4 linked regions of the Homo sapiens genome follow. The protein of the gene in region 2 purifies or fractionates together with the protein of the main gene of each other region. This does not show direct contact. Each region holds a gene or a part of one and is shown on either strand. Other genes may lie near its edges.

The links.
Region 1: the proteins of CDC5L (region 2) and SNRPA1 purify together in Homo sapiens (affinity purification with mass spectrometry; 6 studies listed by BioGRID and IntAct, with this or other methods). This does not show direct contact.
Region 3: the proteins of CDC5L (region 2) and U2AF2 purify together in Homo sapiens (affinity purification with mass spectrometry; 5 studies listed by BioGRID and IntAct, with this or other methods). This does not show direct contact.
Region 4: the proteins of CDC5L (region 2) and SF3B1 purify together in Homo sapiens (affinity purification with mass spectrometry; 5 studies listed by BioGRID and IntAct, with this or other methods). This does not show direct contact.

What each region holds. Positions count from the first base shown.
Region 1 is NC_000015.10:101,285,249-101,293,654, reverse strand, and holds part of SNRPA1 (U2 small nuclear ribonucleoprotein A'), read left to right. Parts: intron 1-482; coding exon 483-630; intron 631-1,614; coding exon 1,615-1,693; intron 1,694-5,952; coding exon 5,953-5,999; intron 6,000-6,644; coding exon 6,645-6,747; intron 6,748-7,361; coding exon 7,362-7,441; intron 7,442-7,853; coding exon 7,854-7,929; intron 7,930-8,406. UniProt on the Homo sapiens protein: Involved in pre-mRNA splicing as component of the spliceosome. Associated with sn-RNP U2, where it contributes to the binding of stem loop IV of U2 snRNA.
Region 2 is NC_000006.12:44,445,735-44,451,360, forward strand, and holds the end of CDC5L (cell division cycle 5-like protein), read left to right. Parts: coding exon 1-133; intron 134-872; coding exon 873-977; 3' UTR 978-4,691; downstream 4,692-5,626.
Region 3 is NC_000019.10:55,657,675-55,666,080, forward strand, and holds part of U2AF2 (splicing factor U2AF 65 kDa subunit), read left to right. Parts: intron 1-1,187; exon of another isoform or gene 1,188-1,307; intron 1,308-1,535; coding exon 1,536-1,671; intron 1,672-2,502; coding exon 2,503-2,547; intron 2,548-2,841; coding exon 2,842-2,945; intron 2,946-3,363; coding exon 3,364-3,515; intron 3,516-4,096; exon of another isoform or gene 4,097-4,156; intron 4,157-4,827; coding exon 4,828-4,944; intron 4,945-5,931; coding exon 5,932-6,070; intron 6,071-8,406. UniProt on the Homo sapiens protein: Plays a role in pre-mRNA splicing and 3'-end processing. By recruiting PRPF19 and the PRP19C/Prp19 complex/NTC/Nineteen complex to the RNA polymerase II C-terminal domain (CTD), and thereby pre-mRNA, may couple transcription to splicing.
Region 4 is NC_000002.12:197,403,281-197,411,686, reverse strand, and holds part of SF3B1 (splicing factor 3B subunit 1), read left to right. Parts: intron 1-1,679; coding exon 1,680-1,917; intron 1,918-3,105; coding exon 3,106-3,318; intron 3,319-3,567; coding exon 3,568-3,689; intron 3,690-6,214; coding exon 6,215-6,412; intron 6,413-6,509; coding exon 6,510-6,611; intron 6,612-6,832; exon of another isoform or gene 6,833-6,969; intron 6,970-7,922; coding exon 7,923-8,102; intron 8,103-8,406. UniProt on the Homo sapiens protein: Component of the 17S U2 SnRNP complex of the spliceosome, a large ribonucleoprotein complex that removes introns from transcribed pre-mRNAs.

The sequences.
Region 1 (8,406 bases), on a different chromosome or scaffold from region 2:
GTCGTGATATGTTGAGGCTGTTCTGATGGGTTCTAAGAATCTGGCCTGTGGAGATGCAAGAGTGGAGAACTGTCGTCCACAATGTTTGAACGCCGTTTGGGCACTGAGACTAAGCAGCTCCAAGTGTAAACTCCTGTTGTGCCGATTCCGCTTAACTAGCCCAAACGACTTAGGACAGTGTGAGGCACCTTGTAAATGTTCTTATAAATGTTAGCTGCCTATATCAGCCATTGTTATTGTCCTTGTCCTTGTTGTCATCAGATTCTAAGCTTCATGGCACTGGGGACTTGAGACTCGTTCAGCGTTTTCTCTCTAGTATCTTAAACAGCGGCAAGTCATGCGTGACCCGACATAGGTGCTAGGTAATACTTCCTGAATAAATCAAAGCCTGGAGTCAGATACTATGAAATACAGCTAATGCTTTAAGGGGCAACTGTTTAGTTATATTAATACCTCTTGTGTTTTTTTCCTCCATTTTATAGGGTATAAAATTCCCGTCATTGAAAATCTAGGTGCTACGTTAGACCAGTTTGATGCTATTGATTTTTCTGACAATGAGATCAGGAAACTGGATGGTTTTCCTTTGTTGAGAAGACTGAAAACATTGTTAGTGAACAACAACAGAATATGGTACGTGTCTGTAGGGGAAAGTAATTTTTTCCCCTAGAGTAAATGTTGCAGTGTTTCCTGAAGAAGTTGTAGCACGTGCTACTGGTTAAACCTACATGTTTCTTTTTCTTTTTCTTTTTCTTTTTTATTTATATTTTGAAAAAATATTTTTTCCATAATGGAAGCCACATTCAATACATGTTTTTTCTTAAAATGAGAAATGAACTTCACTTTTCCTATAGAGATCCAGAGATTAACCTGGCATTAGTCTAGTCTTACTTGTATCTGTTCAGAAATCATGTATTTTTATTTTCATGGTTAAGTTTCTAAATAAAAACATGTTGCTTTGTATACATTTTGGCTTCTAAAACAATTATCAAAGGGGTCATAGTAAAAGGATATATAAAGGTAACAATTATACTTTTGACTGAGCGTCTCTGCTTTTTTTTTTTTTTAACTGCAACTAATTTCTAGACTGTTACTTATTGAAATTGAGATCTTTTTTGACCCTGCCTTCATCAGCTCTGTGTAAACTTTATTGGAAAAAAAGCACTTGGTGTATAGATAATGTCTTTAAAGGTACTGGGTGGTGAGTGGGATTTCCTTCAGATAGAAATATTTCTCATAGGTTAACCATTCCCCTATAGTATAGTTGTTGTGTCTTGTACCTGAGCTGGGAATCCAGAATTATTTGTATTTCTGTGCTGCCTGCACAAAAAATCATGAAGTGAGTTAAGTAGTTTGTGCCACCCAGGAGTTGCACCTTTTCTCAGGTTCCACTAGATGGTATGACAGTGGAATTAGCCCCAGGCAGTGTCTAAAATCCCACTTCTGTTGCTGACCCTGTGGCCTCAGAAAAGGGTTCTTTTTGCTTTGTTTCCTCTTTATCAGGGTGTTGGAAGAAGGATCTCTAAGTGTCTCTCTGTGATCCTCTGAGCAAGGAGGTAGATAAAATTGTTAGCTTATTTAATTTTCACTTTTACTAAGACTCTATTTTTATTTTAGCCGTATAGGTGAGGGACTTGATCAGGCTCTGCCCTGTCTGACAGAACTCATTCTCACCAATAATAGTCTCGTGGAACTGGTAAGTTGCACAGAAGGAAAATGTATTTGGTGGGTGGGGTTAAAGGTACTATGTGCTTCCTACAGAAAATTTACAAAATCTAGAAAATGATCTCAGTATCCTCTTTCTTGTCTTTTTCTTAATTCAGGATCTGGGCCTTTTGGGTTCTGCAGCCGTATGTTGCAAATATTTTCCTACTTTTACTTGACTTTTGACTTAGGATGTCTTGTTAGAGAAGTTCCTAATTTAGGTGCAGTCCAATGAATCAATCTTCTTCTTTATTGTAGCCCTTTTGATGTTTAAATTTCCCCTATTCCAGGGTTATAAACTCCTATGTTGTTTTCTACAATTGCAGTGTTCAATATAGTACCAGTAACTACAGGTGGCTACTTATAATTGAGATGTGCTAGAACTATAAAATACACACTGGATTTCAAAGACTTAAGTGCAAAAAAAAAAAAAAGTAAACTATCTCAGTAATTTTTTTATATCGATGTTGAAATGATAACGTTTTGGATAATAAGTTAAATGGCATATTATTAAAATTAGTTTCACCTATTTTAACATGGCTACTAGAAAATTTTAGATTACATATCTGATATGCATTAAATCTTGCTGAACAGTTCCAGTCTAGAAACCTTGTTTTACTCTTCACGTTAGATGAACAATCCACTTGGAACTGTTTTCATGCTTTTTAAATTTCTGTTCTGTGTATCCAATTTTTAACATAATTGAGATACTGTGTATTGTTTTGTAACCTAAATTCTTCACTTAAACACTGGATGCTTAAATTTATATTGTAGGCCAGGTGCCATAGCTCATGCCTGTAATCCAAGCACTTTGGGAAGCCAAGGTGGGAGGATCACTTGAGCCCAGGAGTTCTAGACCAGCCTGGGCAACATAGTGAGACCTTGTCTCTCTCTATAAGTAATTTTTTTAGAAAAGCCGGGTGCAGTGGCTCATGCCTGTAATCCCAGCACTTTGGGAGGCCGAGGCGGGTGGATCACGAGGTCAGGAGTTCAAGACCAGCCTGGGCAATATGGTGAAACCCCGTCTCTACTAAAAATACAAAAATTAGCCGGGCGTGGTGGTGGGTTCCTGTAATCCCAGCTTCTTGGGAGGCTGAGACAGGAGGATTGCTTGAACCCAGGAGGCAGAGGTTGCAATGAGCTGAGATCATGCCACTGCACTCCAGCCTGGGCAAAGAAAGAGACTCCGTCTCAAAAAAAAAAAAAAAAAAAATGCCAAAAGTGGTAGCGTGCATCTGTGGTCCCAGGTATTCCAGTGGCTAAAGTGGGAGGATCACTTGAGCCCTAGCCATCAGTCGAGGCTGCAGTGAGACATGATCATGTCTCTGTACTCCAGTCTGGGCAATAGTGCAAGACCTCATCTCAAAAAAAAAAAAAAATCGTATAACTTAATTTTGTGACTTAACCTTCCTCCCGTATTTTCCTGATTGTTGAGAATGAACTGTGTTCCTTTCCTTGTGGACAAGGTCCATAGCATCCTTCAGATTCTCAAGGAGATGCTTGACTACAAACATAAGACAGCACTGGTCCATGGCCATGTCCTTTCTGAAGTGTGTGAAGTATTCAACCCGAAATACATATTTATAGGCAATGTGTCTCATGATAGGTGCTGTTAGAGAAATTAGAGTTGTATTTAAAGCTCTTTGCAAAGATGAAGACTACTGGGCTTATCAGTTATTGAGAGAGGTATGTTAGAATCTCACAGCATGGTAGTGGATTTGACTATCCCTGAAGTTCTGTCGATTTTAGTTTTGTATATTTTGAAGTTGCCTTATTTGATACATACAAATTTTAAATTATTCATATCTTTCTGGTGAACGGAAACTTTTTATTATGTTGTGACCCTCGATCTCTATTAATGCTGTTTACCTTGAGGTTTCTTTTACCTCGAAACAATCTTTGTTTTGGTTAGTTATATGCATGATAAATCGTTTTCCATCCAAAATTTACTTTCAGCTTGTCTGTACCTCTTGTAGTTTAGATTTCTCTCTTAAAAACTGTATGGTTGAATTTTTTTTTTTTTTTTTTGAGATGGAGTGGCTGGAGTGCAGTGGCGAGATCTCGGCTCACTGCAACCTCTGCCTCCTGGGTTCAAGTGATTCTCCTGCTGCCTCAGCCTCCCGAGTAGCTGGGATTACAGGTGGGCGCCATCACATCTGGCTAATTTTTGTATTTTTTTTTTTTTTAGTAGAGACGAAGTTTCACCATGTTGGTCAGGCTGGTCTCGAACTCCTGACCTTGTGATCCACCCGCCTTGGCCTCCCAAAGTGCTGGGATTATAGGCGTGAGTCACCGCGCCCAGCTCTGGTTGGAATTTTTTACAATCCAGTCTGAAAGCTCTTTTAAGTGAATTATTTATATTTAGTCTGTTTACATTTAATGTAATTACTGGTGTGTTCCAGTTTGTCTTCTCTCTGTTCTGGGGCTTCCTGTCTGTCCCACCCGTTCTTCAATCCGTTTTCTCTCCTTTATTGTAGATGCTCTCCTTCTGTCATTCCATTTTTTCTTCTGATGGTTTAGAAATTACTCTCTTTCAATCTTGAGTTAGCATCGTAGGAATTAAAACACACATATTTATAAAAGTTTAAAATTAAATGTTAAGATCACTGTACCATGACCTTCAACATTTAATTTTAAACTTTGACACCTTTACCCTGCTAAACAATACAGTACAGTGACCTTCAACATTTCAGCAGCCTTCGGGTTGTTACATATTTATTCTTTTTTGAAGCCCATCACTACATCGCCATTACGTTTTACACTGTGTATGTAACAAATGTTACCACTTTGTTCTTTATTCCTTTTTGGATCATCTTCAGTGGGGGTAAAACAGTATCAAGCTCTAGAGCTCCCTCTGGTGGTTTTTGTGACATATTTGAAGATGGCAGCTTGCTTTTTGAGAATTTCTGGCTCTGCTCTCCCTGTTTTTATCTGTACTTTTTTTTCTCATTGTGCCTCTTGCACACACACACCCCTTCCCCACCATCTACCCAATTTGCGCCTGTTCCAGCAGTTTCTCTTCAGGGCAGGGCCGTGTTGGGACATGATTTCTATTAAGAGTGAGGGCCCAAATTGCTCTTGCCCCTGCAGCCCTTATCACAGACCCCTGTAGTCATTATTGGAACATGCTGGTCTTGGGCCTGCTTTTCTCAGTCACTGGAGTTCTCCAGTTTGTAAGACGGCTCCTCGCCTCCCCTCTGCTTCTTCCTGTACAAAGGCCGTCACCCTGCAAGCCTTGTTGCTCTCAACATGGGTTGTCTCTACTTGTTCCTATTTTAGAGTTACTGCAGAATGCCTTGCCATCTAGCTTGGTTGTAGCTGGTAACCATAGGTTTTTGTTTTTTTGCTATCCTTATTGCACTATGTTTTATGGAACAATTGGAGAAGATTAAAAATTCACCCTGCCCACTGGGCGTGGTGGCTCACGCCTGTAATCCCAGCTCTTTGGGAGGCCGAGGCAGGCAGATCACGAGGTCAGGAGATCGAGACCATCGTGGCTAATACAGTGAAACCCCGTCTCTACTAAAAATGCAAAAAAAATTAGCCGGGCATGGTGGTGGGCGCCTGTAGTCCCAGCTACTTGGGAGGCTGAGGCAGGAGAATGGCATGAATTCGGGAGGCGGAGCTTGCAGTGAGCCAAGATCACGCCACTGTACTCCAGCCTGGGCAACAGAGCGAGACTCCGTCTCAAAAAAAAAAAAAAAAAAAATCACCCTGCCTTCTTTCCATTAATTCGATCATTTTTAAGCTATACTATTCCTTGTCCCTGCAAATTTTATTTAAAGAGATTTTCAGGGGCAGCTAGGATAAATGTACCTTCTTTCAAAAGACAGTATACCTTTGTTGTTCTTAGACGCTGAAGCTGGCGCTAGCAGGAAAGCCCACTTACACCAAGATTCTGGCTTGCAGTTCCCAGTGTGAATAGGTTGCTCCAGAGTCCCATCAGCTTTGCCATTGTTTTCTTTTCCAAATCATGGCTCAGCAGCCACTTTGAGATTCCTGTAGGAAAGCAATTTCTTATCTCCTGCTATTGAGACAGAAGCTGTTAATGCCAAGATTTTAAGAAGCTCCCATGTATTCATCGGTAGAAATTATTTAAACATTTGTGATGTGCTAGTATTGGGCTTGTTGCTAGAGAGTAAAAATTCAGTAAATAATGAAAAGACAACTTGCTTCAAAAGCACTCTCCATTTCAGAATCTCAAAATAGCGTGTGGTATTCGCGTTCTTACCTGTGGCTATTGCTTGACAGGGTGATCTGGACCCTCTGGCATCTCTCAAATCGCTGACTTACCTAAGGTATGGGAATTACATATTGTGACAAAATGAAGCCCTTTAAAATAACATTACTTTTACCAGCCTTGACCTTAATGTAATCAGATAATTAAAAAATGTGGCACATATGCACCATGGAATACTATGCAGCCATAAAAAAGGATGAGTTCATGTCCTCTGTAGGGACATGGATGAAGCTGGAAACCATCATTCTCAGCAAACTATCGCAAGGACAAAAAACCAAACACCCCATGTTCTCACTCGTAGGTGAGAATTGAACAATGAGAACACTTGGACACAGGAAGGGGAACATCACACACCGGGGCCTGTTGTGGGGTGGGGAAAGGGGGGAGGGAAAGCATTAGGAGATATACCTAATGTAAATGACAAGTTAATGGGTGCAGCCCACCAACATGGCACATGTATACATATGTAACAAACCTGCAAGTTGTGCACATGTACCCTAGAACTTAAAAGTATAATTTAAAAAAAAAGTGCCTTTTACAAAGAAAGATTGAATATATTTCCTTAATGTTAAATTGTTACAATGTTGCAATGTGAAGAATGTGAATGTTCCCTTGATTTATAGGTTCCTTAGACTATTCAAACAGACCTCTTGAGTGCTGTGCCATGAACAAGTTTGCCATTGTGTCATTCCTTTTCTTGTAGTATCCTAAGAAATCCGGTAACCAATAAGAAGCATTACAGATTGTATGTGATTTATAAAGTTCCGCAAGTCAGAGTACTGGATTTCCAGAAAGTGAAACTAAAAGTAAGTAGTAATCTGTTGCTTGTGAGCCATTATAGAGTTGTGTGTTTTTCTTTATATTTTTGTTACTGATTATTAAAATTGTCTAAATGAGTAAATTTTACCATTAGTTTGTAATAAAAGTGGGAGGGAAAATGTTACATCACATTTTTTTCTAATAGCAGAGTTTATGATAGAACTTTTAAGTTGGAGCTCTCTTATGTAATGCTGGCTATTCCGAAGTTCGCAAAGTGCTGAGGCCACGGTGAGCAGTCTTAACAGTGGATTGTCTGCCTAGATACGTTCCCAGCGGAGAACTTAATGTAACCTACTTTCGTGCAGCTCCGTGTGTTAGGATGATTTTTCCCTTTATTAGGAATTCATTATTTTATTATTCATTTAATTGCCTTCTTAGTTCCCTGGGATCCCCTCCTTGGAGCTAGGAGAATGAACTTTCTTCAGGGAGCTCTACCAAAGAAAGAAGACCACTGTGTCTTCTCTTAATTTGAAATTGCTTTTTGGTATTTTCACCAGCCCGGAGTACTGTAGGAGAGTTCGCTTCCATGTCTTCTGAGGAATGCATCTAAATGCATGTGGTATTCCTATTTCCATTAACTCTGTGTGTGGTGTCGCTGTAGGAGCGTCAGGAAGCAGAGAAAATGTTCAAGGGCAAACGGGGTGCACAGCTTGCAAAGGATATTGCCAGGAGAAGCAAAACGTAAGACACGGATATCCAACTTAACTCTACTTCACCTTCAGAAACATGATCTGATCTGTCTGGCAGTTCGTCTCCTACAAAATTAACCAAAAACTCTGACATATTAATGTGGTATTAAATTTGAGTGCTTATAGTCCATGTACATCAATGGTCCACACATCACAAGAAATTTCTACCAGCTTAGCAGAGCAAATATTTCAGTAGTCAGTCTTCATGTGATACCATGTACATCCTATTTTCTATATAGGAAGATGAACTGGATGGTGTTTCTGAAGGAGAGAGTTCTTGTATCAGTTTGTTAACAAAGATAAGATACTACACTGGTTGAATTACTTTCAAAAGCTTTTGAAAGTAAAAGAGAAGCAACTTCTGTTGGTCTAGGTCTAACAGTTATGTTCTTCCCCCTCTTAAGTTTTAATCCAGGTGCTGGTTTGCCAACTGACAAAAAGAAAGGTGGGCCATCTCCAGGGGATGTAGAAGCAATCAAGGTAATCATGTGTTAGGATTCTTGGACTGGAATGAGCTAAGATGGGTTCAGAACACAAAGCTGGATAATAAACATGTTCCGAACATTGCAGATTTCATTTTCCCACAGTTATTAGCATACAGCAATATTTCTGTTTAAGGAAAAACTAGCATAAAGTTATTATTTGATCAGACTTGAAATTACACAAGCTAATTAATGTGGAGGCAGCTTTGTCTTTCTCATTTTCCAAGGTGCATTTATCACTTCGAACAGTTACTTACCTTGGTATGCTGTCTCAGTGTTTGCCTTAATTTTTACTTTCGAAGATTTGCTGTCTGGCAAATCCTTTTGACTGATCAGTAGGGACCCTCGTTTTATAATATTGCCTCCTTAAATTATTCAGTAACATAATTGCAAATAGTTACTTCACTTAGCTACGATTTTAGAACATGTGGAGTGATTATTTATAAGAAGGCCTGCATCTCTTCACCAATTTTAG
Region 2 (5,626 bases):
CCAGTCTCGTGCTATGGGGCTCATGAAACAGTTGAATGACTTATGGGACCAAATTGAACAGGCTCACTTGGAGTTACGCACTTTTGAAGAACTCAAGAAACATGAAGATTCTGCTATTCCCCGGAGGCTAGAGGTAACGTTATATATTGAACTGTTGTTTAAAAAGAGTGCTGCAAAGAATTATCAGGGCTGTCCTCTTTTACTTCTCCTATGTAGACTGTCTCTGAAGTTGGTACTGTCAGGCTTTTAAAAATGAGAGCCTAAAGTGTTTGACTTTCTAATCTAGAATTGCCTCTGTGTAGATGGATAGACCAGGCAAGTTGTAGATACAAAGGCCTTCCCTTACTCATTTTCTGTTTCCAATATGTAGATACACTGTGAAATGGAATACTTAGCCCTTGTGATTTGTCCCCTTGAAACTTAATTGCATCCCATTCATGTAGCTCAGTGAGGGGAAACTAAACCAGTATCTTTTTGTTTTATACCTTATGTTGCTGGGAACATAGCTAGTCCTTCCAAACCATCAAATTCCTATGACCAGGTTTGGATTGAATTTATCTCCCAAATGTGCATAATAGCTCCTGTCCAGCTAAAGGGCAGTCAGGGCTTCTTGAAGTGCATTTGTGGGTATTGATAAGACAGTAGTGGTTTGTTTATTTGAAGTAGCAGCAGGATTTCATATGACCAAATCAAAGAATGGCTGTGATACTGGTTTTATAGCAAAAGTATTTGATATGTTTGTTTCTCTTTGAGAAATATTTAACTCTTAAGAATCATGATTTAACTCAGCTGGTTTTTAAGATAATAAAGTACTGTAGATTTTTTTCAGTATAGTTACATCTAAAATAATTACTTAATTTTTTTTCTTTAAGTGTCTAAAAGAAGACGTTCAGCGACAACAAGAAAGAGAAAAGGAACTTCAACATAGATATGCTGATTTGCTGCTGGAGAAAGAGACTTTAAAGTCAAAATTCTGAAGTACAGTTTATATTCTGTCACAGGATTAATTAATTGCCGGTTTTCATACTCTAGAAGGCTGAAACTGATGTTTATCTTCATTGACAAATTTACCCACCATCTGTGGTTTTTCAGTTGTTTATTTTAAATGATATCGATCTTACACATTCTGTGTATAAAGACCTTAACTCCACAGGACGGACATTTTAGAGTTTAAATTATTAAGGCTATCATTCTTTTAGTAATGTCATATTTGCAAACTTTTTTAGTTTTGGCCTTTAATTTAAAAAGCCTAATTTTAAAGTGCTGCCTGTGAGTAACTCTTGAATAAAAACAAAATATAAAAAATTGAGAATGTAGCCTTTTGTTTGAAGTAATTAGATACTTAAGAGTGCCTGCAAACCAGCAGCTATGTACTCTGTGTCATATTTAATGAGTAACTCTTGGGTAATCAAAATGGTGATGCAGTATCTTAAACACTTAAGAGGCAGTTCTTTGTGGCTTTGTTAGTTTCAGCAAAGAGTGGTCATTTCTGTATACACTGACAAGTTAGATTAACTTTTTAGTACCTCAAATTTTTTTTTTGTTAATATCACTTTAAAGAAGGTCTCTTGTCTGCCAGCTACTTAAATAATTTATGGGTCAGGGCTTAAAAGATTTAACTTCCTTGCCCCATTATTTTCTTATAAGTATTTTTTGACAAAGGCATTTTAAAAGTTAATTTCAAGAAGGCCATCAAACTTAAAGCTCTATGTTTAGCCTAAGAAGTCAGTTACATCAGTGTAGAATTTGGGGAATGGATAGAGGTGGAGATATTTAATTTTATATAATTCATATAAATTGATTTAGTTACAGTATCAGTTGGCTACAAGCTCATTATAGACTAGCAATGTTTTGACATCACCAAAAACGTTTGCCCAGTCTTAGAATACTAGGGACTATAGGAAGGGAAGGGATTCATTCATTCATTCGATATTGAATGTATACCCTGTGCCAGAGTCTTAGAGAGAGAACAACAAACAAAATAGGCCTAGTTCTTGTTTAGTAGAGCTTATAGTCTTTTGAGAATGACAGACAATTAAAATCCAAATGTTTATTTGGTGATTCTTATGTGTCAGACACTTAAGTGTTGGGAGATAAGCAGTTATTAAGACAGAGTTCTTGCTCTCATGGAGGTGACATTAGTGGGGAGGAGATACTAAGTATGTCCAGGGAAAGTATCAGACCATGAGTTTTAGATTCTGTGGAGGAAATTAAAGTAGGGTGATTATGAGATAGTGAATGAGTGGCTATTTTAGACTGGACGATCAAAGAGACCTCTTGGAAGGCAGCTATGCTCACCACTATACCACTGCACTGTGCCGCACCGTACCACTATAAGCTGCACGGCCAAAGAGACCTCTTAAAGAAGTAACATTTAAGATAACATGTGATTGACATTTTAGAATGGGCTATCCTTGTGAGATTCAAGGAAAGAACATCCTAGGTGGAGTGAATAGCAAACATAAAGCCTCTTTTGTATGTTTGAGGAACAAAAAGGACAATGCAGCTAGAGTGTCAAGAATGGCATTTCTGTATATAAGACCTCGTTGTATAGAGCCACATAAATAAGGCTATAATAAGGAATTTGGATCTTACTTTAAATATGATAAGAATCGATGAGAAGATCTAAGCAAAGGAATGACATGATCAGATTTGGTTTTAGAAACATCACTATCTCCTTAGTGTGTAAAATCTCACCAGGCTGGAGATAGGGAAGCCAGTCCAATTAGGAGCCTGATGCAGTGATCCAGACAAAAAAATAATAGTGATTCTAACTAGAGTCCAGGTAATAGTAGTGGAGATATGTGGAGAGACATGATAGGTATATACTTAATAGTCTTATCAGACGATAAATTGATATTTTCCTGGTGTGTAGTCACTTAATTCAAATACTTTTTTCAGTAAGTTCTGGGTTTTCTAGGAAAAACTTCAGTATCATCAGTGAATAATGATAGTGTTTCTTCTGATAGTTTTATTTCACTTTTATTGCATGTTTTGTTATCTGAAATGTTTAGGACAATGTTAACAATAATGATGTTAGACATTTTTTTTTCTTATTTTAATGGGAATGTCCATAGTTTTAAGTTTGCTGTTGGGAGTTAGATAGTCTTTATCTGAAAGACAGTGTCTCTCTTTTAGTTTTTAAAGAGTTTGAATTAGAAATGGCTCTGGAACTTTAAACAGTATACCATTTGGGCATCTATTAAAGCATTCATATAATTGTTCTCATTTGATGTTTTGATGAGGTATATTAATAGATTTTCCCACATTAAATCATCTTTGCACTCCTGGAATCAGGTAGATTAATTTTTAAAAGAAATTTTAAAGGATTTATAGTTTATTTGCACTTTTTGTAGACTTGAATTATATGGATTTAAAAGTTGATCTAATATTAATAAAGGCTCACTTTGTTTTCAAAATTTGAAGTAATTCACATACTTATAGCCTAAAAAAATCGGCAGGAATTACAAAATTTCAAAACTGGCACATTGTAAACTGCATATGCATTTGCCAGGTAGTGGTGCCACTTGAAATGGTGAACAGACACACTGTTATCCTTTGTCAGTATCCTGTAAAGCCCAGGATTCTTTACCAGCACCATACAGCGATTTTGGTGACTATTTTAACATTCACACTGAGGCCAGGGGTGGTGAGTCATGCCTGTAATCCTAGCACTTTGGGAGGCCAAGGTGGGAGGATCATTTGAGCTCAGGAGTTCAAGATTAGCCTGGGTAACATAGTGAGACCCTGTCTCTATTAAAAAATAATAATAAAAATAACATTCACATTGGTATTGTTCACTAAGGTATTGGTTGTTAAGGCATTCATTAAGGTATTGTTAAAACTTGTGTTAAGCATGTTAAAGTCTCAGTAACTTTGGGATAGAAATAAAATGTGATAAAAAGCTGAAAGAAACCACCACAAGGGAGAGTCCTTTTTGAAATATTAGAGACATAATGCTGTCTAATAAAAAACGACATCAAAGAAAAACTACACTACAGTGACTGCAGACTTAATGTTGGCCAACCATGCATCCTCCCTAGAAATGCATTTGAATTTGATTTACTAATCTTTTATTTAGGAAATTTACATTTTTACATTAGTGAGATTGGTCTTTTGGGCTATTGTACTTTTTTTTTTTTTTTTTTGAGATGGAGTCTTGCTCTCTCACCCAGGCTGGAGTGCAGTAGTGCAATCTTGGCCCACTGCAACCTCTGCCTCCTGGGCTCGAGTGATTCTCTGCCTCAGCCTTCCAAGTAGCTGGGACTACAGGCATGTGCCACCGCACCTGGCTAATTTTTGTGTTTTTAGTAGAGATGGGGTTTTGCTATGTTGGCCAGGCTGGTCTTGAATTCCTGACCTCAGGTGATCCACCTACCTCGGCCTCCCAAAGTGCTAGAATTACAGGTGTGAGCCACCATGCCCAGCCTGGTTATTGTATTTTGATATTGGGATTTTGCTAGCTCTCTAAAGTAAATAGGATAACTGTATATCTTTTTCTGTGCATTAAGCAGTTATAACATGGGAATGATTTGTTCATGAAAGGTTGAAAGTCTGTACTTACAGAACTTTTGAGTTCACAGTGCTTTCTGGAAATAATTTCTTTATAACTGTCAGTTTCTTTTGTGACTATTATGTTACCTATTTTTAAATTTAAGCAACTTTAAATTAAAAAAATTGTTTTTAAAATATATTCTTCCTTTTATGTTTATTTAGTAAATTTAGGTAATGTATACTTTTTAAGAAATATTTTTATTTTGTTCAAATTTAAACATCTGTTGTTAGCAGAAAATTCTAATAGCAATTTCTTTTCTATTAACTTTGCCATTTCTAAGTTATAGGAAATTTACCTTCTCTTAATTCTACCACTTTTTACTTGACTAGACTTGTTAAGGGTATACATTTTCTGTTCAGAAAACTAGTGTTTTTATTGGCTTATCTATTGTGATTTTGTTTTAAAATATGTTAATTTCTCAATTTAGGCTTATTATTTTGTTTTCTGTAGTTTTTTGACTTTTTGAGACTGATGCTTATTTTTTGCTTGTATACAAATGAATGTGTTGAAGACTTTTGAACTGTCCTTTGAGTTCAAATATGTTCACATCCCAGCCATTTTGATATGTAGTAGTCTTGTTTTCTAAGTAGTATATCATTGTGTTTTAAATTTCTGGTTCAATAATTAAGTTTTTCAAAATATCTGTATGGTTGGCTTAAATTTTTTTTTTTTTTTTTTTTGCTAGTTGTGGGATTTTTACCTTGTGGGAAAAAAATGTGGTTTATGTAGTTTCTGTTTATTGAGGTTTGGGGGCCTAGCATCTTTAAAAAGTGTTCTATGGATGTTATAAATGAAGATTTATTTAGTTTATATAGGACAGAGGTGAATGTGTATTCATTCAACCAATTTATTCAAATTTAATGTTCTTATTGTTGTTATAGATACCCTAGAATAGTGTTTTCTTAAAGTCTCTGATTATAGTTGTTTCTCTCAATTTCATTTGTTTCTCTAGAGCTTTTGCTTTGTATATTTTGATAGTGTTATTTAGTATAGAATACTTGTGTCTGTTACATACAATTCATAAGGAAGACTTCATGGCCTAAAGCTATCCTTTTTGTTTTGTTTATGCCT
Region 3 (8,406 bases), on a different chromosome or scaffold from region 2:
TTTGGGGTTTTTGGCCTTCAAGGGGACAATTATATTGTCATTAATGGTTCTAGCCAGACCTGAGTGTTCTGCCTGATCCACATTCGAGAGTATGGCCTCGTGCTTAACTCACTGATGTCAGAGTGTTTAAATTCTGGTGTCACCATTTCCTAGCTGTTTGACCTTGGTAATTGTGATCTCTCTATACCTTAGTTTCCTTACCCATTATGTCAGCCCCCAGCAGTGTTTTTCCGAAGCAGTAGTGAGGATTAAGAACAAACAAAACAATTTAGTACAGATTCCGGTTGTAGGAAGCATCTCAATATTTGTTGCTGTTTTTTTCCCTGCTGGGTGCATATTTTTCTGAGTGTTGGTGGTTTTGGAATTGTGATGCTTTTCCAGACATTCACATTGCATCGCAAAAACGTGAGACAAAACACTGTGGGTGAGGCTGAAGTTTAACATCCTCCCTCAGTGCCCTTTCCTCCTCTTGTCCCCAGGGATGATCACTCCAGGAGATGCGTGTTAACATATATAAGCACCTTAACGTGTGCATCTGTTTTGTGTGTGTGCTTCATGGCTAGCTGAGAAATCTGGGTGTCTTTGAATTAAGGAAATGGTGTGGCGGTGCTCATGAACCCCCCCGCCCCCCCATGCTCATGGTTTATCCTCCATCTTGAAGGGCCGGTCTCTCTTCAGGGGTTGAAGGGTCTGGTGAGAGCAGAGGTTTCTGTGGTTTTGCCAGTGAGGCTCCGTTCCTAGTGGCTACCTCAGGCAAATAGAGGGTTGAGGGAGCCTGCTGGAGGCTGGCAGAGATACCCGCCCCTACTCACGCCTTTACAGTCTCTTCAGTACTTGGCTTTGAAGGGAGTGAGGCTGAGAGATTCAAGTGGTTTGGGATTCAAGTCTGGATGGGGCAAGCTCCTCCCCTGACCTGCTGAAGGAGAGGAGGGCCTCTTTCCCCTTCAGTCTGCAGATTCTCCGAGGCCCTTCTCTTCCCCTGGGAAGGGTGCTTGCTTCTGCATTATTCACCGGCTTGGGAAGGGATGGGTTGAGTTTCCCTGCTTCCTGGGGATATCAGATCCTGCCTGGCACCTGACCCCTAGTCCTGATGGTGGGGCTGTGGGTGCCAGCTAGTTGCAGAGGTCTTTCCTGAGGGGTCGCTGGGTCCCTTCAGGAAAACATCATTGGGTCTCTTGATTCCCCAGCCTCTAGCCCTGCCCCTCTCAGGGACGACCCTGGGGTCAGGCCCCTCAGCCCTCGAGGGGGACCAGGAGCCAGCCTCCTCTGTCTTCTCTGGCTCCCCAGCTCCTCCTGAGCATCCTCAGGTATCTTACACCCCGGGGGCATTTCCAGGCCCCGTCCCCCTGGTCCCCTCATGGTCCCTGGACTCGCTTGTGGACCCAGGAGGCCTGTTAATTCCCTTCCTCCATTGAATCCCTTCCCTTTGGGGGTGGCCTCCCTGGGGCTTGGGACATAGCCACCAGCGCGCAGGGTGGGCTGGGCCCGCATCCTTACTCCGCTTATCCCGTGCCCCTCCTCTCACCCTTGCCCAGAGCGGGACAAGGAGAACCGGCATCGGAAGCGCAGCCACAGCCGCTCTCGGAGCCGGGACCGCAAACGCCGGAGCCGGAGCCGCGACCGGCGCAACCGGGACCAGCGGAGCGCCTCCCGGGACAGGCGACGACGCAGGTACTAGGGCTCAGGGATCCCCTGGGCCAGCCTGGGAGTCGGGGGGTCGGTGTTGGCCGGCCTGTGGGTGGCCTGTGTGTGTCTGTGTCTGGGTCCGGGCCCTGTGTGGCTCGTTCGTTCTTTGTGTGGATCTGGGGGAGGGATCTACTGCTTGGTCTGTCTTGGATTCCGATTTTTTCCCCCGTTTCTGGGGTTTCTTTCATTTTCTGTCTTGGTGGTTGCTGGTGGGTTGCTGGGGGCAATAGGCTCTTTATCTGGAGCCTGGGAATTGATTCTGTGTTTTCCTTCACAAGGGGTTGTTCTCTGTCTCTGACTCTGAGGGCCTGTTCCTTCTTTTCGACTCTCTGTGGCTCTCTGTGGGACTCTCTTCGAGGGGGTTGGTCTCTGCCTCCAGTTTCTTTCTTCCCTGCCTCCCAGGAGAAGGGAGCTCTTGGGACCGAGGCAGTATCCACAGCCTGGGCTGACTTTTTGGCCCAGGGGTGTCGGTTTCCACCGCCTCTTCCCTTCTAGGCTCCCCTTTCTGTTCTCTGCCTCCTTAGGTGAGGAAGGGCAGGATAGGCGGAAGTCCTCCTGCCTCCTCCCGGCTCAGTTTCTCCAGCTAGAGACTGGTCCTTCCTGGCCCCTGGCCCCTTTCTCCTTTCCTCACTTCCTCTTTCCTGGGGGTGGGAGTGTTTGGGGGGAAATGGCAGGGCCGAGGGTGGCCTGCTTGCTGCTTGTTGACCTCGGCCCTGCTCCCACCCTGGGGCTCAGTGCCCTTGGGGGGGTGTGGCATGTGGGGAAGACGAGGGTCCCCAGTCACCCCTCCCCATACCTTTCCCTCCCACCCCCCAGCAAACCTTTGACCAGAGGCGCTAAAGAGGAGCACGGTGGACTGATGTGAGCTTCTCTTCCTGCCCCTTCCTCCCTGATGTCCACTCCCTTCACCTTCCTCACGCCCGTGCACCCTGTCCCGCCCATTTCCAGCCCTGGCCCAAGCACTGGGAAGAGTCCACTTACCTTGAAACCAGCACCCCTTTCCCAGGCCCTGCCCCAGACCCTCTCCTTCCCTGGAGAGAGTGGAGCTTACATGGTTGCGGGGAGGGTGAAAGGGTGCCTGGGAGGGGGCTCGCAGGCCCACTGTTGGTCAGACTGAGGTTGCCCTGCCCCGCTCTCCCCTCCCACCTCCCCCAGTCGTTCCCCCCGCCACGAGAAGAAGAAGAAGGTCCGTAAATACTGGGACGTGCCACCCCCAGGCTTTGAGCACATCACCCCAATGCAGTACAAGGCCATGCAAGGTAGGCCCCTGGCCAGGCTGCTCCCAGAGCGGGAGGGTACAGGGGTTGGGATTCTCCGTCAGTCATTCCCCTGCGTGTGTGCTTGGAGGGGGTCAAAGACACAGGTAGAGGGTTGCACACCCCTGGGGGTTCTGGTCTCTGCGCTTTTGAAGCCTCCCTAGAGGAGGAAATGACCAGAGACACCCGTGGTTGACAGGGGAATGAGGCCTCCATCTGGACGCCATTAGGAAGTGAGGCTTCTGAGGAGCAGCAGTTACTGGGTGGGGGCCCCGAGGGTGGAAAGAGGGTTCTGGAAGGTGCTAAGACCGAGAGCCTGTAGGAGCTTTCTGCTGAGGAGGGGAACTCCCAGTGTGTGGTGAGGGGTGGTCACTGAGCATTCCCCTGATGGGGTTTTATCCGGCTTTTATTCCCTTTGAAGCTGCGGGTCAGATTCCAGCCACTGCTCTTCTCCCCACCATGACCCCTGACGGTCTGGCTGTGACCCCAACGCCGGTGCCCGTGGTCGGGAGCCAGATGACCAGACAAGCCCGGCGCCTCTACGTGGGCAACATCCCCTTTGGCATCACTGAGGTACTGCCCTCCCCTGCCCCCTACCCTCTCCCTTGTCCCTCTACCCCGTTCCTCCCCTTCCCTCCATTCCCTTTCCCCAACCTGCACGGGTCAGACTCTGCTCCTGCAAGACCCCCCGGCCCCCTCCCAGACGGACCGATGGAGTTGAGCCAGCCAGGGGCCGGGCTGGGGGTGGCCCTCCCTCCCTCCTCTTCCCCTCTCCCGTCTCCCCTCCCCCCAACCTCCTCCAGCAACCCAGGGATCAAGCACACACATAATGTACCCACGTGTTGTACCTACGTGTCGGAGAGAGACAGAGAGGGAGACTTGGACACACACACACACACACACACACACACACACACACACACACAGACGCACGCTGCCCCTCAGTTTTTTTCTGACACGCCTCTCGTTCTCTGCCGCCTGTCCCCTATCCTCTCCCCCACGTCCCTCCCATGGTCGCTGTTCTTTTATTTTTGATCGCCCCTGACCTCCCCCTTCCCCACCACTCCTTTTCCCTCTCCCCTCTCCCCAACCCCTTCCTGTGGCACCCCCTGAGAATCCCGAGATCAAAGAGTTGTTTCCATTTCTCTTTAAAGTGAAATATTGTGGGGCTGAGATCCCTCGTAGCAACAAAAAGTTTGCTACCATCGTCGAAGGCAAGTAAGGTCCATTCTGACTTTCTCAACCTGCACTTTGCTACATTTGATAAACCAGCCCCCGGACTCCAGGGCCAGATTCCTCCACATCACTCTTTTCTCCTCCCCTCCCGTCCCTGCCCCTCCTCCCTACACTCCTCCTCTCCTGCCCCTGCACTCTTGACTTCCTCCTCCTCGCTCGTCTCTGTCCTGCTCTCCCTTTCTGTCCTTTGCTCGTCTCTGCCCCTGCCTGCCACTTCCTTTCTACTTTCCTGCCACTTTTCTGTCTGTCTCCACTGGGTGGCCCTTCCTGTGTGCTCTGTCTCTTCATCTCTTGTGTTTCGTGTTTTTCTTCATTTTGTGTTGTCATCATGCCCTCTGCCTTTTCTTGAACAATCTTCTCCTTTCCCCTGATTTTTTGGGGCCCCTGTGGCTGTCCCCCAACGCCTGTCCATCGCCTGCCCTTGGCCGTCTCTTGCTACTGCTTCCTCCCCATTTTCTCTCTTGCTTCTGTTCTTACTATTGACTTCTACACCCCCACCCATATTCCACTGTTCCTTCCCCCCCTCCTCCCTCCCCTCATCCCTCTCCCCTTACCCCCAAACCCCTCTGTGTCTCCCTCTCTCACCCTTCCCCTCCTCTCTCCACCTCCCTTCCCCCGCCCCCCCCCTTGTCTCCTATTCCCTCTGCAGGAGGCCATGATGGATTTCTTCAACGCCCAGATGCGCCTGGGGGGGCTGACCCAGGCCCCTGGCAACCCAGTGTTGGCTGTGCAGATTAACCAGGACAAGAATTTTGCCTTTTTGGAGGTGAGCTGGGGGAGTGAGTGAGGTCCAGGAAACGTGTGTGATGTGAGGGCCCAGCCCTTAGGCTGATGTTGTGTGGAGCTGCCTTGTGCTGTTTCCACCAGGCCCTCTGCAGCCTCTTCTCCACCCGGTCGCTGAAGTGAGCCCTGTTATAGCATTACAGATCTGATCCTACTTTCTGCCTTCCATTTGCTTTCTGTGTGACCTGAGAGGCCTGTTTGGCCTCTGTAGACCTCTTTGGCCTTTTCCAGACCATTCCGGCCCAGTCCTCTCTGCACTCTGGCCACACTGACCTTCCCAGAACCTACCATGCTCCTGCCTGCTTGGCTAGAGTTCTTTACACCAGCTAACTGATGTTCCTAACTAGTCTTCTGTTACCCCAGCTAACTGATGTTCCTAACTAGTCTTCTGTGTCTGTGTTTCTCAACTGTCGGGAAAAGGCCTTGGTTTTTGATTTTCGACTCTTGGTGGACTGATAACTCTCATGAAGTATTGTGAAGGTGTGGGCAGTGTTAGCTTACTGCAGAGATTTCTGAGCACTCCCTCTCACTGTCTGAGCACTCCCTCTCACTCTGTCCCTCTCACTCTGTCTTTGCCTCACTGCAGTCCACTTGCAGTTGCATTGCTCCGGAGATGGGCTGAAATGTCCCCCTCACCAGAAAGACTCCAGTACTGTCATCTCCCCGTTCAACTAACCTTTCCCGTAACATCCCTTTTCAGCACTTTGTCCCTCTTCCGTGTCATCACAGCCTGCAATTGTGTGTTTGCCTCTGTGTTTGTGTTGGGTGCCTGGTGTTTTTAATGGTCGAGTGTGAGCTCCTGGCAGCAGGGACATGCGTGTCTGTTGTACTCCCAGTGCCCAGCCTGGGGCCTGGCATGTTGTATTTGTTCACATGAGTGAAAGGAAAGAGGAAATCCCAATCCTGGAACACTAGGGGCTGTACTAGTCCCTGACCCCCATCCCTCACCACTCCTTTCTCTTTCATTCAGTTCCGCTCAGTGGACGAGACTACCCAGGCTATGGCCTTTGATGGCATCATCTTCCAGGGCCAGTCACTAAAGATCCGCAGGCCTCACGACTACCAGCCGCTTCCTGGCATGTCAGAGAACCCCTCCGTCTATGTGCCTGGTGAGTGGGGGATCCATTAAGGGCCCCTTTCTCCCCCAGTCCTGTTCCCATGGCCTGTCCATCCCTTCAGCCCAGCTGGAGTGGCTTAGGAAGTTGTGTAAGTACTGTGGAAGATAGGTGCCTTTTCCCTGCTTCCCCTAAGTCTCTGTGAGTGGGGTGCTCTCCTGCTGGTAGAGAAGGTGCCTAGGGCCGGGAGAATGAGCTGTCACCTGCTGAGGACACACAGCTTGTACGTGGCAGAGCCAGGATCAGACCAAAGGTGCTGGGGAAGCGAGGGGCTTGTGGCCTGGACCTCGTGCCTGCGTTGCGGCTGTGGGACCTTGGAGGGCTCAGTCTGTGCCCGTCGGGGCTGCTGTGTGTCGACGGTTGGCAGCAAAGCTGCTGCTGTGGGGTCTGGCACCTGGGTATTCACTTGTTTTTGTCTCCTAGTGTTTGCCTTGAATCTTGTGTTCTGGGCCATTCCCCATAGCTGTGTTGAACATCATCTGTAATTGGTAGGTAACATAGCAGACCAGGGGTTGGCGACCATGTCACTGTGTGTGAAAGCAGCCGGACGGTGTCTGCGTGCGTGGGCCTGGCTGTGTGCCGGCACACCTCGACACGCGTGGCTGCTGAGGTTGGGCTTTCCTGTGCTTCTCACAGGCCACAGAATGGTCTCCCTTTAGAAAGCTTGCAGGATGTGCAAAACCAGGTGATGGGCCCTGTCAGCCCACAGGCTATAGTTGGCTGACCCTTGTAGCTGATGAATGGGATTTGAGGGAGGGCTTGTCTGATGCCCTGTCAGGGTGCGGCTGTGTCTCAGGCCTGGGACATGGAGGAGGTGGGGTTCTGCTGGCGGGTACTCACTGTTCGAGGAGCCCTTTAGGAACTGAGTCAGCTCTTCAGGGCAGGCGATGTGGAGCCCCAGACGGAGGCACATCTGTGTCAGGCAGGACTTGGGCTAGGTCCCTCACTGGCCTCCAGTGCTTTTCTTTTTGTTGTTGTTGTTGTTTTGAGACAGTCTCGCTCTGTCACCCAGGCTGGAATGCAGTGGCACGATCTCGGCTTACTGCATCCTCCGCCTCTAGGGTTCAAGCAATTCTCCTGCTTCAGCCTCCCGAGCAGCTGGGATTACAGGCACCTGCCACCATGTCTGGCTAATTTTTGTATTTTTAGTAGAGGGTGGGTTTCACCATGTTGGTCAGGTTGGTCTCCGACGCCTGACCTCAAGTGATCCGCTCACCTCAGTCTCCCAGAGTGTTGGGATTACAGGCATGAGCCACTGCGCTCAGCCCAGTGCTTTTCCATCATGGGTTTTGGTAAATTCAGCTAACCTTTTGGAGCCTGTAATATATGTTGACATGCTCCCAATCGACATGGACTTTTTACGTATGGGTGCGTTTCCCCGATCAAGCTGCAGAATGTCTTCCCCACGTCTCTTCCTGGTGAATCCACTGCGTTTTCATTCATTTTAAGTCCCATGAGTGGCCCGCCACTTGCTGGTGCTTAGTGTGTGTCAGGCGCTGTCCTAAGTGCCCTCCATGCACGGCAGTTCTACGACACAGGGATTGGCGCTGTCCTAAGTGCCCTCCATGGACGGCAGTTCTACGACACAGGGATTGGCGCTGTCCTAAGTGCCCTCCATGCACGGCAGTTCTACGACACAGGGATTGGCGCTGTCCTAAGTGCCCTCCATGGACGGCAGTTCTACGACACAGGGATTGGCGCTGTCCTAAGTGCCCTCCATGGACGGCAGTTCTACGACACAGGGATTGGCGCTGTCCTAAGTGCCCTCCATGGACGGCAGTTCTACGACACAGGGATTGGCGCTGTCCTAAGTGCCCTCCATGCACGGCAGTTCTACGACACAGGGATTGGCAGGTTACAACTGAGAGTCCAACGCTGGCCCACTGCCTGTTTTTTGTTTTTTTGTTGTGTTTTTTGAGACGGAGTCTTGCTGTGTTGCCCAGGCTGGAGTGCAGTGGTGTGATCTCGGCTCACTGCAACCTCCGCCTCCCAGGTTCAAGCGATTCTCCTGCCTCAGCCTCCCGAGTAGCTGGGATTACAGGCATGTGCCACCACACCTGCTAATTTTTTGTGTTTTTAGTAGAGATGGGGTTTCACCATGTTGGCCAGGCTGGTCTCAAACTCCTGACTTTGTGACCTGCCTTGGCCTCCCAAAGTGTTGGGATTATAGGCGTGAGCCACTGCTCCCGGCCACTGCCTGTTTTTGTAAGTAAAGATGGATGGCGGTGCAGCTGGCCTCACTGTGCAGCGCCTCCTTCCTGGGTAGGGACGTGTGGTGGGCCTTGGGGAATAGGAACCGTGGGTTATGGATCTAAGGTTGCTTCTCTTAC
Region 4 (8,406 bases), on a different chromosome or scaffold from region 2:
TTTCTTTTTTTTTTTGAGACGGGGTCTCACTCTGTCGCTCAGCCTGGAGTGCAGTGGTGCTATCTCGGCTCACTGCAAACTCTGCCTCCCGGGTTCACACCATTCTCCTGCCTCAGCCTCCCGAGTAGCTGGGACTACAGGCACCCGCTACAACGCCTGGCTGATTTTTTTTGTATTAGTAGAGACGGGGTTTCACCATGTTAGCCAGGATGGTCTCTATCTCCTGACCTTGTGATCCGCCCGCCTCGGCCTCTCAAAGTGCTGGGATTACGGGTGTGAGCCACCGCACCCGGCCAAGAGCTCCCAACTTTAAAACAAATATATAAAGTACATTACACATCCTGTGGAATACTTACGAGGCAGTATATAAGTACAAATTTTGTTTTCTTTACACTCAACTCTATGCTACTTTGATATGATACTATCTTTATTGGTGGAGATTCTTTTGCTATTACATGCAGTCAGTTGTCCAACTATTACTCTCTGTTTGAACTACTGTGGAACCCTTGATGTTACTTAAACCCACCTCTCAGCCTGGGCAGCATAGTAAGACTCTTATCTCTCCAAGAAATAAAAAATTAACTGGGTGTGGTGGTGTGCGCCTGTATGTAGTCTCAGCTACTCAGGAGGCTGACATGGGAGGATCACTTGAGCTTGGTAGGTGGAGACTGCAGTGAGCCGTGATTGTGCCACTGCACTCAACCTGGGCGACAGAGTGAGACCCTGTGTCAAAAAACAAATGAAAATCCACCTCTCATCTTTTTTCATTAATCTTGCCAGCATCAGCTAGGGTAATATTATTTGGTACACATGTAACTGTACATACAAACTGATCTCAAGATTGAAATCATGTGACGGTATCTGGTTATAATTACATAGGTGGGGCCTGGTGCGGTGGCTCACGCCTGTAATCCCAGCACTTTGGGAGGCCAAGGTGGGTGGATCACGAGGTCAGGAGTTCGAGACCAGCCTGACCAACGTGGAGAAACCCTGTTTCTACTAAAAATACAAAAATTAGCCCGGCGTGGTGGCAGGCACCTGTAACCCCAGCTACTCAGGAGGCTGAGGCTGGAGAATCACTTGAACCCGGGAGGCAGAGGTTGCTGTGAGCCAAGATCATGCCCCGGCACTCCAGCCTGGGTGACAGAGCGAGACTCTGTCTCAAAAAAAAAAAAAAAAAAAAAATTACATAGGTGATCTAAAGCATGTTTATATTAATTAAACACACACAATTAAACAAAACATCAACAGGACTATTTTCTTAGAACACACGAATTCCTTCTCCCCTAAATATGTGTCTCTAAGCCCCACTTTGAGAAGTACTAATGTAATTAGAGCTGAAAGCCTTCGATTACTGATCTAGATAGAGAAACCTCAGTGATTTCCCCCAGTCACAGAGCTATTAATGGCATATCAAAGATTCATATCGATAATATTTTGTTTTTTTAAGCTGGGACTTTTGTCAGTGCTTCGGATTGAAACTTTACATTGTTTTTAATCATAAACATTTGCTAGAAAGTAGGTATCTTTTCCTATAAGTAGAGGTAGTGTCTTCTAACTTTTCATTAATTATAGTGCATAGAACTAAAACATTTTTCGTTTAAAGTTTTTTATTTTATGGAAATTTTCTAATTATTTCTGTGTGGGTGTGTGAAATAAAATTTTTTTGCTTTTTTAAGACCCCTGGGCATACTCCTTCCTTAAGATGGGATGAGACACCAGGTCGTGCAAAGGGAAGCGAGACTCCTGGAGCAACCCCAGGCTCAAAAATATGGGATCCTACACCTAGCCACACACCAGCGGGAGCTGCTACTCCTGGACGAGGTGATACACCAGGCCATGCGACACCAGGCCATGGAGGCGCAACTTCCAGTGCTCGTAAAAACAGATGGGATGAAACCCCCAAAACAGAGAGAGGTACTTCTAGTGGAGTATGGGTGTGTGGGTGAAATGTTGAGTGATATGTTTACAGACTGAAATGTGTTCTGTTTATTCCTGGGTGGACACGTATAAATAACCAGCTGCTTTTGGGGGACAGATTAAGAATAGAACAGTTCATATGCCTAATTTTTTCCACTTCTTGAAGTGGTTTAAGATTTAAGGAAGAACCTTAGGTAAAAGTAAAGTTAGTAGGCTGTAACCTTTGATTTTGTGTGTTTCTTTAGAGATAGGGTCTTGCTCACTGTAGCCTTGACATCCTAGGCTCAAGTGATCTTCCCACCTCAGCCTTCTTAGTAGCTGAGACTATAGGGGCATGCCACCATGCCTGGCTAATTTTTTTTTTTTGAGATGGAGTTTTGCTCTTGTTGTCCAGACTGGAATGCAATGGCGCGATCTCAGCTCACTGCAACCTCCACCTCCCGGATTCAGGCGATTCTCCTGCCTCAGCCTTCCTGAGTAGCTGGGATTACAGGCATGCGCCACCAAGCCCGGCTAATTTTGTATTTTTAGTAGAGACGGGGTTTCTCTATGCTGGTCAGGCGGGTCTCGAACTCCCGACCTCAGATGATCTGCCCCCCTCGGCCTTCTGAAATGCTGGGATTACAGGCATGAGCCACCGCTTCCGGCCCCTGGCTAATTTTTAAATTTTTTGTAGAGACAATGTCTTGCTTCATTGCCCAGCCTGGTGTTGAACTCCTGGTTTCAAGTGATCTGCCAAAGTGTTGGAATTACAGGCATGAACCACTGTGCCTGACTTACCCTTTGTTTTTTATTATGGAAAAATGTACATAACATCAAATTTACTTTTTTTGTTGTTGTTGTTGAGATGGAGTCTTGCTCTGTCACCCAAGCTAGAGTGCAGTGGTGCGCTCTCGGCTGACTGCAACCTCTGCCTCCCCAGTTCAAGTGATTCTTTTGCTTCAGCCTCCTGAGTAGCTGGGATTACAAGCGCCCACCACCACACCTGGCTACTTTTTGTATTTTTAGTAGAGACAGAGTTTCATCATGTTGATCAGGCTGGTCTCAAACAACTTTAAATGGGTCACCATTTTAGGAATATTCTATTTTAGAACTTGATAGTTTTGAGTATAACTGTTTGAGAATAAAGAATATTATTTTAACAGTGATTAAAATTGTGGTTTTACTCACTCTTTCTTTTTAAAGATACTCCTGGGCATGGAAGTGGATGGGCTGAGACTCCTCGAACAGATCGAGGTGGAGATTCTATTGGTGAAACACCGACTCCTGGAGCCAGTAAAAGAAAATCACGGTGGGATGAAACACCAGCTAGTCAGATGGGTGGAAGCACTCCAGTTCTGACCCCTGGAAAGACACCAATTGGCACACCAGCCATGAACATGGCTACCCCTACTCCAGGTAGAACTGTCTCATTGGACATAATTGTTTTTTTCTCCATAAATTATTTAATTTTTTCCTTTGTGGTATTCTGTGTACTATTAATGTCAACTTCTAGTAAGAATAAGGAGATATACAAATTTAAGTCTTGGTTTGCGTTTATAATATAAAAGCAAATAATAGGATTGATCTTAACTGTCTTTTATCTCAATGTATGTAATAATACAGTCTTGTACTATAGATTATATAAAAATTTGCTTTTCTTGGTAGGTCACATAATGAGTATGACTCCTGAACAGCTTCAGGCTTGGCGGTGGGAAAGAGAAATTGATGAGAGAAATCGCCCACTTTCTGATGAGGAATTAGATGCTATGTTCCCAGAAGGATATAAGGTAGTACATCAAATTTGAATGAGGTGGTATTTAGGATATACATTTATTTTAAATAGTGAAAAAAATTGATTAAGCTTGCATTGGCTTTGCCCAAATTTACTATTGTCATTCCATTCTCTTAGCTATTTCCAGGTATATTTCAGTTCCATATAGAGATGAAAAGAAATGAACAACATGAAACTTTTATTACTTTTTGAAAGACATCTCAAAGACTTGTGTATGGGTCTATCGGTTATACTTTGAGAACTGCTGGTGCTTCAGTTTTCTAGCAGTCCCAGGAATAAGCTCGTTGAGATTGTGGTTATTTTACTTGGTGCTTCACCAAGATTTTATATACTTAAGTTTATGGATTGTCAGTGGACACAAAGAATTTTTTTTTTTTTTTTTTTTTAAAAGATGGAGTCTCACTCTGTTGCCCAGGCTGAAGTGCAGTGGCGTGATTTCGGCTCATTGCAACCTCCGCCTCCCAGGTTTAAGCGATTCTCTTGCCTGAGTTTCCCAGGTACCTGGGATTACAGGTGTCCACCACCATGCCCGGCTCATCTTTGTATTTCTAGTAGAGACAGGGTTTCGCCATGCTGGCCAGGCTGATCTTGAACTCCTGACCTCAAGTGATCCGTCCCTCTCAGCCTCCCAAAGTGCTGGGATTACAGGCGTGAGTTACCGTGCCTGGCCTTTTTATCATATCAACCTAAAATTTATTTTGAACTATAAAATTTTCTAGGTACCTGGTACTCAGGGAGTATTTGTTAGTCTGAAGATAGTCTGTGGTCGTATAGCTGACATCATAACCAGGGGGAACCAGATAACTTTGTAAGTCATCTGATGGCCTTTACAGAGCTTTTTCTGTTAATGACTATTGATTTTTAACAGTTCATGAGTATGTTTTTTGTTGTTTTGTTTTGTTTTAGAGACAGGGTCTCACTGTGTTGCCCGTACTGGAGAGCAGTGGCGCTGACATAGCTCACTGCAGCCTTGGACTCCTGGGCTCAAGTGATCCTCCTGCCTCAGCCTCCTGAGTAGCTGGGGCTACAGGCATGCACTACCATACCTGGCTAATTTTTTTATTTTTTGTAGATACGGGAGTCTCACTGTGTTGCCAGGCTGGTCTCAAACTCCTAGGCTCAAAGTACCCACATTGGCCTCCCACACTGCTGGGGATTATAGGCATGAGCCACTGTGTCCAGCCTTGTTTTGTTTTTGATCCCCTGTTATTTGTGTTAGAGTATTTGTTTCAAGTTTGCATGAAGTTTTGCCTTAAAGCTTTTTGTAGCCTCCACATAATGCTGTGGGTATAGATAGAACTGTGGGTATAGATAGACAGAACTTACTGTTGACTGCCTGCATGTCTTTCTCAGTCGTAGTCATTGATTTCCTTAGTGTCACTAGGAGGAAAAGTCTCCCTTAGTGAATCCTACTAATAAGCAACGTCCTTACTAGTGAATATAAAAATATAGTAGACCTTTAAATCCTTAATGGCAAGTGATGCCTGTGGACTTGACATTGATTTCTCTAGGCCTCACATCTTTAGAGTATCCACTTTATCCAAAATGCTTAGTGGTCTGTGCTGGTGCAGACGTTAACTAGCAACAAAAAATATCTGTGCAAAGTACAGATAGCATCAATATAAATTTAACATAATTTAATCTTTAATAGACAAAACAATTTTAGGCTCACTGGAGAAGACGTGTATAGGTTTATTGACCTCTCCAAGAAGTTGTATTTTTTTTCTTTTACTATATATTAAATTATATAAAATAGAGATGGGGTCTTGCCATGTTGCCAAGGCTGGTCTCAAACTCCTGGGCTCAAGCGTTCCTCCCATCTCAGCCTCCCAAAGTGCTGTAATCCTGGCCTGTCCAGAAGTTGTTTTTTTTTTTTGAAGTCTGTTACCAGCTTTAAAAAAAAAAAAAAAAATTTCTTTGTGATTTTCAGCCTGCATTTTTTGAAATTTTACTCGTTTTGCAAAAGGTTTGATCAGGTGGTGTGTATTTTATAGGGCTTTGGCAAACATTTTGGTTTTAGTTTTTATGCATTTAACTAATTTTTGTAGAGTTTTACACTTAAAAGATTTTGTAGTGCAAGAATTTATGTGACATTTTAATACTAAAATATAATTTTTTATGTTTTATGCCCCATATGAGCTTATTTCCATTTTATATAAATCTTATGAAACATTATTTGCTCGACTACAGCATTTTTTGGAATTGCTGACTCAGATTTTATAATTTTCAAATTTTTAATAATTTGACATTTTGACCCACAACATGTTTGAATGTGATTAGTATTTTCTAAGCTCTTCTCTTGTGTTTCCTCAGTTCCCTACACCACGGATATAATCAGTTAGTGGATGAGAAGTATATATTTTAAGTTTCTAATTAAGATAGAAAAGCAAGATAGATGTTGTCTCCAAGCAAATAAAAACCTTATTAGCTAATAAACTAAAATATTTTAAGTGCAAATATTGTTCATTATGCTGTTTTTTAAGTTAAGAAAATCCTAAACTGTCTTATAACTTTTATTAGGTACTTCCTCCTCCAGCTGGTTATGTTCCTATTCGAACTCCAGCTCGAAAGCTGACAGCTACTCCAACACCTTTGGGTGGTATGACTGGTTTCCACATGCAAACTGAAGATCGAACTATGAAAAGTGTTAATGACCAGCCATCTGGAAATCTTCCATTTTTAAAACCTGATGATATTCAATACTTTGATAAACTATTGGTAAGTGATACTAGCAGAAATAAACTATTAATTGTGTTCCAGAATTATAAATCATAACATTTCAACTTCCCTTAACATTTTTTTCTTTTTACTATAGGTTGATGTTGATGAATCAACACTTAGTCCAGAAGAGCAAAAAGAGAGAAAAATAATGAAGTTGCTTTTAAAAATTAAGAATGGAACACCACCAATGAGAAAGGTAAGTCCCAGTTTGTTAAATTGTCATGTTTGTTGCTTATTTATTTAATTAAAAAAAATTTGTAGTTTTTGTAGAGACAGGGTTTTGCCATGTTGCCCAGGCTGGTCTCAAGTGATCCTCCTGCTTTGGCCTACCTCCCAAAGTGCTGGGATTACAGGTGTGAGGCTCTGCACCTGGCCATGTTTATATTTTTAAAAATGTTTTTAATTTTTTCACCAGGAAATGTAGACCACAAAATAGTAGTGAACTATTGGTATAGCCCGCTGTGGAGTGTGGTCTTTCCTTTACTCTCCCAAATAGCCCAAATTGGTAAAGGTTATTTAGAAAGCCTTCCCCATAAAAAATTAACTTTTGGTAGTGTTATATTTTTGTGTTTAGGAATTTATAATTACTGTCTTCATCTTTATCAAGGACATAGCATGAGGGGAAAAAATTTATGTAGTGTGAAGGATTTAACTTTTTTGCTTGTTTTTATTATTAATATTATATATATATTTTTGAGACAGGGTCTTGCTCTCTTGCCCAGGCTGGAGTGCAGTGGTGTAGTCTTGGCTCACTGCAACCTCCGCCTCTTGGGTTCAAGCAATTGTGCCTCAGCCTTCCAAGTAGCTGGGACTACAGGCGTGCACCACCACGCCCTGCTAATTTCTGTATTTTTAGTAGAAACGGGGTTTCACCATGTTGGCCAAGCTGGTCTTGAACTCCTGGCCTCAAATGATTAACCTGCCTCGGTCTCCCAAAGTGCTGGGATTACAGGTGTGAACCACCATGCCCAGCCGTTTGTTTTTATTATTATTTAAATACTCCTGGGCTCAAGAGATCCTCCTGCCTCAGTCTCCGAAAGTGTTGGGATTACAGGTGTGAGCCACCGTGCCCAGCTGGAGTTAGCACAAAATTCTTTGGTTAAAAAAGCTAATAAAAATGCTGAAAAATGAGATTCTCCTTTTTGTTCTTAAGGCCTTTAAAATATGCTTAAAGCTTGAAGATAATTAGTGAAATTATGTGAGGGATTATGTTAACACTATATGTGCCTTGGAAATGGAAGATACTTCAGGGAAATGAAGGCATTTAGTACATACCTCTGTGGTTCGTTCTATTAAATTACTCTTTTGAGTTAACATAAAATTTCTATCACAGGAATTGAAATTCCAGAGTAATTTGGATGGAAATGAACTCATGCTGTCTATGTAAAATGTGTGTAAAAGTAAACACTAAAATATTAAAGTATGGAAAATCTTCTTTGAGTAATTTGCTCATTCAAAATGTTTGATTATAAAGAAACCACACCTATTACTCTGCTCTTTTTCCCAGGCTGCATTGCGTCAGATTACTGATAAAGCTCGTGAATTTGGAGCTGGTCCTTTGTTTAATCAGATTCTTCCTCTGCTGATGTCTCCTACACTTGAGGATCAAGAGCGTCATTTACTTGTGAAAGTTATTGATAGGATACTGTACAAACTTGATGACTTAGTTCGTCCATATGTGCATAAGGTTTGTTCTCCTTAATAGTGTTTCTGATAGTTTAAAGTTTTAACTTTTTCAGTTAATCAATGTTAAATTTACATATTCTCCTAGACCTTTTCCTTTGCACAAGTACACACCATACATGTACAAATACAGTTTTATACAGATGTACAGATGTTAGTTTTTGTCATCTTTGCCGTAAGAGGTTCATATTATTTAATTTTTTCATTTGCTTTTATTAAAATTAGATTAGGATGAGAACATATGAGAACTAACGCCAGTTAGTATTAAGAACCAGTTTTTTCACCGATGGTAATTATGGTGCAGTATG